Regions from separate parts of the Homo sapiens genome. Here region 2 is linked to region 1. Evidence: fine-mapped expression QTL. A gene starts in region 1. The other region holds a variant in brackets. All regions are shown on one strand. Distances are between the middles of the regions.

Region 1 (5,000 bases):
ACAGTCCATTTCTGAGTCTCAGTTTCTCTTCTCCTTTAATCTTCAGTCTTGACTGACAGAAAAGCAACCTTCAATGAGTGCCATGCTGGTGGCCTTACTGGCTGTTCTTTTCCATCATTTATTTTCACCTGCTTACATTGGCCACTGTAAAACATTTTTTATTTCCTCAAAGTCTGCAAGCAAGGAGGGTCATTAATTTTTATTAGACTTAATGAAATGATTGCTAGATTTATTTGAATATTAGAAATAAATAGTATTAATTAATACCGGAAGCTAAGAATCACAGAGAAAGATGCCACTAATATCCTAAAGTCTTCCAAATTCCCTTATTTTCCTCATCCTCTGTCCTTGTGCTCATTTCAGCAGGCATATCACCTCTAATTGTTTAGGTCTCAACCCTCAACCCTTCCCACCTGTTTCCTGGTCACTTCACCCCTCAGAATATGAGGTTATCGGCATATTTCAGGACATAACCATGTAGAATCATTAGATCATTTACCCGTTACATTGTTCTGATAACTGATTATTTATCCGCTTAAAGTAAAGGTGGATTCCCAGTGGTAGGTAACCTTTTATTGGGCTCCCAATTTTCAGTACTAATATTCGCAAACACATTACAGGTTTTGTTCTTCCCCCAACAAGAAGGCCAAGGGCAGACTATATGTGATGACCATATACACAGACAAAAGGTAGCTACACAATTAGGCGCTGAACAAACCACAGCAAGGGCAACAATTCTCACTGCATTTTCCCAAAAGGCAATTGAATAGATCAAGCTTTAGCTAAGCTTGGCCTGAATGTTTCTGTGAGGCATCTTCCTGGTTCTCCCTTTAACTTGCAGAGAGCACACATTCTGAAAGACTGGCCTGATTGTTCCAATAAGGCTTTCATTCCCATCTCTGATTGGCAGGAGAGACTTTAGAATGTAGATGCCATCAAGTTTATCAGGTGAACTCATCCTTCTTGGCAAGAGTGCAACTTTTCATCTGTGACAAGGCAAAAGGTTTTATAATCTATGTTGATGGGATATGATGTTGGGAATTTTGTTCTGAAAAATAAACGTGTTGCAAAGCCATTGGGTAATCTGGATCTCAGGTTATTATTATTGTCTTTATGTTAGTCAAGATAAAGAAAGATGGTATAATTTTGTAAGGTAGCAAAGTGAATAACCCCACCAAGCTCTGAAATATTCTAACCTTTGAATTTGTCTGGTCTTTTCCACACTGAAATAATGATAAATTACATTGCTGAATTTCCTTTTAAAAGGTAACTGAAATACTGTATTTAGCAACTCAATAAGACCTTTTTACTGAAAATATTTAAAATTTACAAGAAGAGAGTTTAAAGATGACACATTGATGCATTTGTATGGCAAACAGCAATTAATTTCACATATAATTGCAAATTCAGTTTATGACAGAGTTTTTCATTCAAACATGATTCTTCCTTTATGGGCAAGTTCATGAATTATTCAATATAGCAAATGTCACATTCTCCATAAATCAATTAAGCATCAAAGACATGTCATGTATAGTTTTACTAGAAGAAACCTCATCATAATACAAGCCACGTTAGCGCACAATAAACTGTAAACCAAAGAAATACAAAGCTAGTCGACATACTTTCTAAATTGTTCTACACTGTGATTTTAAATTAGCTCTTTAGAACAACTGTGTTTACATGAAACAGCAGCCTGAAAATCCTGTATGTCTTCCACGGAAACAATATTATTGCCAAAACAATGGAAATTCTCGTTTTTTACCATTCATCACGAAGATCCTTGTTCAGTACTTCAGAGTTGAAGTCTAACTTCTTTCCTTACACTCTCAAAGCATCAGTGTTTCCACTGTAGTTTGTTATGCTATCCCCCACCCCCAAACGCCAAAATCAAATCTTTTTAAAAGAGAAACTTACCCCAAGAAAGAGTGTGCTAGATGAGAGAATGTGCTGATGCCTGTAGATAATTAGCTAATAAACATGTAAATGGGCAACTCGCCCTTTGGAAGTGCATATTTTTATCCATTTTTTTTTTTTTTTTTTTTTTTTTTTTTTTACAGGGAAAGGTTAGCCCAGCCTAAAGTAGCAGACTCTGGGCTGCCGCAGCTTTTTACTGCAAACCGCTCATTCTGTAAATGTGAGCTTATTTACATTTATCTCTTTCCCTTTGTTAACGACTCCCTCTCTTGAATGCTGTAGCCCGCATGCCTTTAGCAAACAGGACACAAAAAGGCCTGAAGTCCGAGCTGGAGCCGACGGCCAGGGGAACTCTTGGGGGTCTCAATAGGAAATGCTTTTCATTGGCTAAGGAGGCATTATTAGGAGTCTAGATCCCGCCCAATTCCCTGTGCTCCATCGTTCCCTTAGTCACCAGTCACTGGACTGAATAAGTTTTTCCTTAAAGAGCATTGCCCAGGAAAAGCAGTTTCACAGTCAAGAATTAATGGCTTAAGTGCCACTTGACAATATAAAAAGTGTCTTTCCTGACCAATTAATCCACAGAGAAAGCCTGTGTGCCTGTCTTTGCCGCAGGACTGCAGAGGAGGAGACAACATTTCAAACAAGGAGGAGTGTTTCAATTATGCATACCATGTTCGCTCCTACTTGTTTAAAATAATTACAACAATATTGATAATAATAAGTAGGGGGCAAGGAAAAGGCAAAAATGAAAGGTACCATAAAAATATTCCTATCACACTGTGCAAAATTCAATCTCCCACCATCACAAAAATATAAAGTAAATTTTAATACTACACTCACTTAAGCCAGATAAGTGCCCTCAGATAGAGATGTACTAGGGTCCCAGAGCTCTGACACCCACCTTCCAAGGACTAGGGAGTGTTCTGTAGCAAAAGGAGGGTCTACACTTCTCAAGTAACTGCCTCGCAGTAAGTCTAATTACCATGAAAATTTCAGAGATTTGCTAAAATACAAAATAAATAGCACAGATGCAATCTATTTACAATAGAGAGTTATCTGCAACTGTATACCTCCGCCCACCTCCCCCATGGCAAGATTTTCTTTTCTAATTATCTACAGGTTTACTGCCTTGGTCACTCACAATTCTTTTTTTTTTTCCTCCCTATATTTTCCTCTTCACCTCCCTCTCCTTGATCTGATTTTGTGGCAGAAACCCACTCATCCATCTGTAACTTCATTGTTGGCCCTTCCCCTCTGCCAGCCCACCCCTGCAAGCCTTCTCTACTCTATCTCCACCCACTGCAAAAGCCACCAACAGCAGCCCCTCCCCCTCCTCTGGAATGAAATTCTCTGCCCAGGGATAAGGTGCTTTCTTTCTCTTGGCAGAGCAGAGCCCCTGGAGTCTTGGAGGATCCTCTATTTGCTTCAGAACTTCAGTTTGTGTAATTAAGCTGCCTCCCAAGTAGGGCATGTTTCAAGCTTGTTTATTCTCCCTATTTGTTCAGCTCTATTGTGGCTCTTCTCACTATCAGTGGAGGCCAGTAAACAAGTTAGTGTGAAGCTGACACTAGCCTTATTACTTGTAACTGGCTCTAAAAAAACACTTTCTCTGTTGCTTCCTCTTCTCCATCCCACCGCCCATCTCTGTTCTTTTTATTCCCCTCTCTGCTTATCTCAAATATGTCTATTTCTGTCAGTTGCTGACATTGTCTGTGTCTTTATAAATGGTCTTTTACCAACTCTCATCCTAGACCAGTACTCGGTGCATTTGTCAGTCCACAGGCGAAAGATACAGTCTCTACCCTGCAGTATGCCAGAGTCTAGGTAGGGACACAAAGACACATGAAAAAAGTGGGATACCAAAGGTAAATTTTGAAAAAAAAAATACCAAGGCAGTTATATGGAGATTGAGTTCTGTAATAGATCAGAGGATGGAGATGAAGTCCCATGGATAGGGCCAGGAGGGTTTCTTAGAAGAAGTGGGATTTGTGCCACATTTTGGTGGATGATTCAGTATTAAATAAACCAAGAATGGAAGGGGATATATTTCTAGGTGGGCAGAGCAAAGTGATCAAATGCAGAAGATGTAAAGTGAGAGTAGGTGAGAAGGAGACCAGTTTGTAAAGGGAAAATAAGGGTAAGGAGAAAAGCTTTTGAGAGGAGTACTTTACTGTAGCAACTCAATGCACTATAGTGATTGAAGGGTTAACCTATAGTCATGATCACTGTCTGTCTATATGATCAGCTCACTACCTTTCTCCTCTTCAAATTAATAGCCATAAGTTTTCCAATTCTTCTGTCTTCATTTCTCCCTCAAGGACACAAGTACTTTGCTGATTAATCTCACCAATGTAGCAGATCTTTTACAATGTCACTGGGTCACGTGCTCTTTTAGCATCAGTCTTCCTCCCTTCTGAGTTTCAGCCTCATTGATCCTCTTCCAGCCCCTAGAATGAGATAGGATCACTCATGCCATGGATATTTCTAAGTGCTATTTCCTCTGCCTGGAACACTCTCCTCCCTCTCTAATCTTCCTTTCACCAGTTTAATCCTTATTCTCCCTTCAAATCCTATCCCAATAATCACGCCTTCAGGGAATCCTTCCTTAACCCCTCATTTAGGTCATATCCACATACTATATGTCCTATAGCATCATGGACCTTTCATGTATTGCATTTTTTACTGGTATAATTTTACATACCGTTGTGTAATTTGTTTGTGTGACAATTTTATTAACATTGATTTCTCCCAACTGTAAACTCCAAGAGGATAGGATTAATATCTGCTTAATCCAAAAAGGATAGTGGTGTTTGCAAAAAATTATTCTCCCTGACCTTCTGTTTTACCCAACCAAAGCAACAACTAGACTTTTTTTACTTATCAGCTGAAAACATGCATCATTTTGCCCATTTTTGCACAAATTTACACCAAGATATTATTTTAGGCCAAAGAATACACACAAATAAAGAAAAAAAAATCCCATTAACAAGAAAGTACTAAGGCTTATCCACTACCATCCCCTTTTTCCTTTAACTCACTTATTGCTGCAAACCTTATAGTTTTGCTTGCTCTAACATTTGTAA
Region 2 (5,539 bases), 100 kb after region 1:
TTCTGTGGTATTGGTTGTAATATCACCTGTTTCATTTCTAATTGAGTTTATTCGGATCCTCTCTTTTTTTCTTGGTTAATCTCTCTAATGGTGTCTCAATTTTATCTTTTCAAAGAACTAACTTTTGTTTCATTTATCTTTTGTATTTTTTTTTGTTCAATTTCATTTAGTTCTGCTCTGATCTTTGTTATTTCTTTTCTTTGGCTGGGTTTGGGTTTGTTTGTTCTTGTTTCTCTAGTTCCTTGAGGTGTGACCTTAGATTGTCTATTTGGGCTCTTTCCGACTTTTTGATGTAGACATTTAATGCTATGAACTTTCTTCTTAGCACTGCCCTTGCTGTATCCCAGAGGTTTTAATAGCTTTTTCACTATTATGGTTCAGTTCAAATAATTTTTTAATTTCCATCTTGATTTCATTGTTGACCCAACAATCATTGAGGAGCAGATTATTTAAGTTCCATGTATTTGCATGATTTTGAGAGTTACTTTTGAAGTTGATTTCCAATTTTATTCAATTGTGATCTGAGAGAGTACTTGACATAATTTTGATTTTCTTATATTTATTGAGACTTGTTTTATAACCTATTATATGGTCAATCTTGAAGAATGGTCAATGTGTTAATGAATAGAATGTATATTCTGCAGTTGTTGGGTAGAATGTTCTGTAAATATTTTTGAGTCCATTTGTTCTAGGGTATAATTTAAGTCTATTGTTTGTTTGTTGACTTTCTGTCTTGATGACCTGTCCAATGCTGTCAGGGGAGTATTGAAGCCCCCCATTATTATTGTGTTGCTATCTCATTTCTTAGGTGTAGTAGTAATTGTTTGATAAATTTATGAGTTCTAGTGTTAGGTGCATATATATACACACACACACACACACACACACACACACACACACACGATTGTGATTTTTTCTCTTGGACTAGTCTTTTTATCATTATATAGTATCCCTGTTTGTTTTTTATTACTGCTGTTGCTTTAAAGTTTCTTTGGTCTGATGTAAGAATAGCTATTCCTGCTTGCTTTTGGTGTCCATTTTCACAGAATATCTTTTTCCACTCCCTTAATATAGGTTTGTATGAGTCCTTATGTGTCAGGTGAGGAAGACAGCAGATACTTATTTGCTGAATTCTTATCCATTATGCCATTCTGCATCTTTTAAGTAGGGCATTTAGTTCATTTACATTCAATGTTAGTATTGAAATGTGAGGTACTATTCTATTCATTGTGCTAGTTGTTATCTGAGTACCTTTTTTTGTGTGTGTGTGTGTGTGGTGTTATAGGTCCTGTGAGATTTATGCTTTAAAAAGATTCTGTTTTGGTGTATTTTGAGGATTTTTTTTCAAGTTTTAGAGCTCCTTTTAGGAGTTCTTGTAGAACTGGCTTGGAAGTGGCAAATCCTCTCAGGACTTATTTCTCTGAAAAAGACTATCTTTCCTTCATTTATGAAGCTTTATTTCACTGGATACAAAATTATTGGCTGATTATTGTTTTCTTTAAGGAGGCAAAAGGTAGGACCCAAATCCCTTCTTGCTTGTAGGGTTTGTGCTGAGCAATCTACTGATAAACTAATAGGTGTTCTTTTATAGGTTATTTGATACTTTTGCCTCACAGCTCTTAGGACGCTTTTCTTTGTCTTCGCTTTAGATAATCTGATGACTATGTGCCTAGGAGATGATCTTTTATGGGATAAACTTTCCAGGCGTTCTTTGAGCTTCTTATATTTGAATGTCTAGATATCTAGCAAGGCTCGGGAAATTTTCCTTGATTACTCCCTTAAATATGTTTTCCAAACTTTTAGATTTCTCTTCTTCCATGGGAACACCAATTATTCTCAGGTTTGATCATTTAACATAATCCCAAACTTCTTGGAGGCTTTGTTTACTTATTTTTTATTCTTTTTTCTTTGTCTTTGTTGGATTGGGTTAATTCAAAAGCCTTGTTTTTGAGCTCTGAAGTTCTTTCTTCTACTTGTTCAATTCTATTGTTCAGACCTTCCAGTGCATTTTGCATTTCTCTAAGTGTGTCCTTCATTTCGAGAAGTTGTAATTGTTTTTTATTTATCTATTTCACTGGAGATTTCTCCATTCATATCCTGTATCCTTTTTTTATTTCTTTCAATTGAACTTTACCTTTCTCTGGTGCCTCCTTGATTAGCATAATTGACCTTCTGAACTCCTTTTCTGGCAATTCAGGGATTTCGTCTTAGTTTCGATCAATTGCTGGTAAGCTAGTGTGATTTTTTTGAGGGTGTTAAAGAACCTTATTTTGTCATCACATTACCACAATTACCAGAAATCTTTTTCTGTTTCCTTCTCATTTGGGTAGACTATGTCAAAGGAAAGATCTAGTGCTCAAGGGCTGATGTTCAGGTTATTTTGTCCCACAGGGTGCTCCCTTGATGTGGTTCTCTCCTCTTTTCCCTTGATGTGGCTCTCTCCTCACTACAGTGTGGCTTCCTAAGAGCCACACTGTAGTGATTATTATTCTTTTCTTGATCTAGGCACCCAGTGGGGCTACCAGGTTCTGGGCTGGTACTGGGGAGTGTCTTTAAAGGGTCCTGAGATGTGATCTGTCTTCAGGTCTTTCAGCCATGGATACCAACACCCGCTCCAGTGGAGGTAGCAAGGGAGTGAAGTGACTCTGTGAGGGTCTTTGGTTGTATTTTTATTAAGTGCACTGGTTTTATATTGGTTGGCCTCTAGCCAGGATGTGGCACTTTCAAGAGTGCATGA[T/G]CTATGGTAGTATAGGTACCAGGTGGTGGGCAGGCCATAGAGCTTCCAAAAGATTATGTCCTTTGTCTTCAGCTACCAGGTAGGAAGAGTAAGACAATCAGGTATGGGAAGGTTAGGCATGTCTGAGCTCAGATTCTCCCTGGGTGGGGCTTGCTGTGGCTGCTGTGGGGGATGGGAGTGTGGCTCCCAGGCTAATGGAGTTGTGTTCCCAGGGGGACTATGGCTGCCTCTGCTGTGTCACACAGGTCACCAGGGAAGTGGGGGAAAGCTAGCAGCCACAGGCCTCATCCAGCTCCCATGCAGCCCACAGTCTGAAAGGCCACTCTCACTCCCACCATGCCCACCCCCACCAGTAAACTGAGTTTATTTCCAGGCTGCTGGTGAGCAGGGCTGAGAACTTGCTCCAGGCTACAAGCCTTCCAGCTGAGAAAGCAAGCAGACTCACAGTTCCTCAGCTGTCCCACAGAGCCTGCAGCAGCAATCCACCTCCTTCAAAGGGTCTGTGGATTCCCTCAGCTTTCCTGGTATTTCCTGCAGTAGTTCTTGGAGCAAAGTTCACAATGTGAGTCTCCACATGCTACTGGATTTGTCTGAGTGGGAGCTACAAGTTAGTCCTGCCTCCTACCCGCCATTTGTTTCCTCTTCTGCCTTTCTTAAAAGGTTTTATAAACTGATTTATTAGTTTTTTAAGAGAAATAAAAAGCATTGTCAAAAAATGCAATTTAAAGACATGCCACACAACATGAACTGCCAATTAGACATAAAAGGCAACTATACTACATCCAACAACAATAGAATACACATTCTTCAAGCAAACATAGAACATTCTCCAGAATAAACCATATGCTACATCATAAAATATGAAACAATAAATTTAAAAATATTGAAATCATAATTCATGTGTTTTCTGGCCATAATAAAATGAAATTAGAAATCAATAAGAGAAGAATATTAGGAAATTTCATAAACATGTGGAAATTAAACAACATTCTCCTAAATAATCAATGCATCAAGAAGAAATCAAGAGGGAAATTAAAAAACTCTTTCAGGTGAAGAAAATGTAATACATATCGTAACAAAACTTAAGAGATGCAACAAAAATAGTCATTAGAGAGAAATTTATGGCTGGGATAGCTTATATTATTTTTAAAAGCTTGTATTATTTTAATACAAACTAAACTCTACCAGGCAGAAGGAAGGACACAACAATTAGAGCAGAAATTAATTAACACAGAACAGAAAAACAATAGAGAAAATTAATAAATCCAAAATTTGGTTATTTGAAAAGATCAAATTAGTGATCTTTTAAATAGACTGAACAAGAAAAAAGAACACTCAAATAATTAAAATCTGGAATGAAAGGGGGCATTACTATTGACTTTATAGCAATAAAAAGTATTGTAGGAGAATGAAAAATTGCATGCCAATGATTAGATAACCTAGATGAAAAGCACAAATTCCTAGAAAGACATAAACTACTGGAACAGATTCAAGAAGATATTAAAAATCTGAATAGATTTCTACTATAATAAGCAGAGAGGTTGAATTGTGAATTTTAAAACTTACCACAAAGGAAAGCCAAGTACCAGATGACTCCACTGCTGAATTCTACCCAAACATTTAAAGAAGAATTAAGGCCATTCTACAAAAAGTCTTTTAAAAAGTTAGAGAAAAGGCAGCACTGTTCAACTCATTTTATGACAGTCTTAAACTCATATCCAAACCACATGAACATATAAAAAGAAAACTATAGACTAATATCCCTTATCAATATAGATGCAAAAATTTTCAATAAAATACTAGTAACCCTAATCCAGCAACATATAAAAAGGATTATGCTACACAATTTAGTGAGACTTATCCCAGGAAGGCAGGACCATTTCAACAGCTGAAAATCAATAAACATGATACATTATACTAATAGAATAAAGAACAAACACTGCATAGTTCTCTCAGTAGATAAAGAATTAGTATTTGACAAAATCCAGCAACTTTTAATGATAAAACAGCCAACATACTAAAAACTACAAGGGAACGTCATCAAGATTATAAAAGGCATCTATAAAAATTCCACAGTAATCATCACACTTAATGGTGAAAAACTAAATGATTTCCCTCTAAGAACAGGCAGCAAACAACAATATTTTCTCTCATCACTTCTATTCAACATCGTAGTGGAGGTTTGAGAAAGAGAAATGAGATAAGAAAATAAAATAAAAGCATCAATATTAGAAAGGAAGAAGTAAAACTGGCTCTAGATGACATGAACTTTTGTATATAGAAAATCCTATGGAATGCAATAAATGTATTAGAATTAATAAATGAGCTCAACAAGGTTGGAGGATACATAGTCAATATAAAAAATCAGCTATAATTTTACACACTGGCAATAAATATTTCTAAAATTAAGAAAATGTTCTTATATATGTAATAGCAGGAAAAATATCTAGGAATAAATTTAATGAAATAAATGCAAGATCTGTATGCTGAAAACTACAAACCATGGTTGAAAGATATTTTAAAATGCTGAAATAAATAAAAAGACATACAACATACATAGATCACAGCACTTAATATTGTTAAGATGAAAATATTCTCCAAATTGATCGATAAGTTCAACACAGTCTTATATAATAAAAGGATCCCAGATGTCTTCTTTGCAGAAATTAACAAACTTATTCTAAAATGTATATGGAAATGCAAGGGAGCCAGAAGAGCCAAAATCATTTTGAAAAAGAAGAACAAATTTGAAGAACTTACAATTCATGATTTCAGATGTCAAGACAGTATAGTCCTGGCATA

Which allele goes with the higher level. Positions count from the first base shown, and alleles are read on the strand shown. Sizes are in standard deviations (SD) of each study's normalised expression.
In carriers of allele G in region 2, the expression in tibial artery of the gene that starts at base 2,229 in region 1 tends to be higher than with T alone (small effect, 0.21 SD a copy in GTEx).

Evidence for each region. PIP is the estimated chance that this variant, and not a neighbour inherited with it, causes the effect. A credible set is the group of variants that fine-mapping cannot tell apart.
Region 2: its variant is the best candidate, but not a certain one, in a credible set for the expression of LPAR4 in tibial artery (GTEx, PIP 0.60).

Annotation. Positions count from the first base shown.
Region 1 is chrX:78,744,949-78,749,948 of GRCh38, reverse strand. LPAR4 (lysophosphatidic acid receptor 4) reads right to left here and starts at 2,229. Exons shown (of 5, transcript NM_001278000.3): 1 at 1,915-2,229.
Region 2 is chrX:78,640,943-78,646,481 of GRCh38, reverse strand. No RefSeq gene overlaps it. Among named protein-coding and RNA genes, the nearest start is that of RTL3, 16 kb to the left of the region's middle. The variant T/G (reference allele first, on the strand shown) is at 2,738.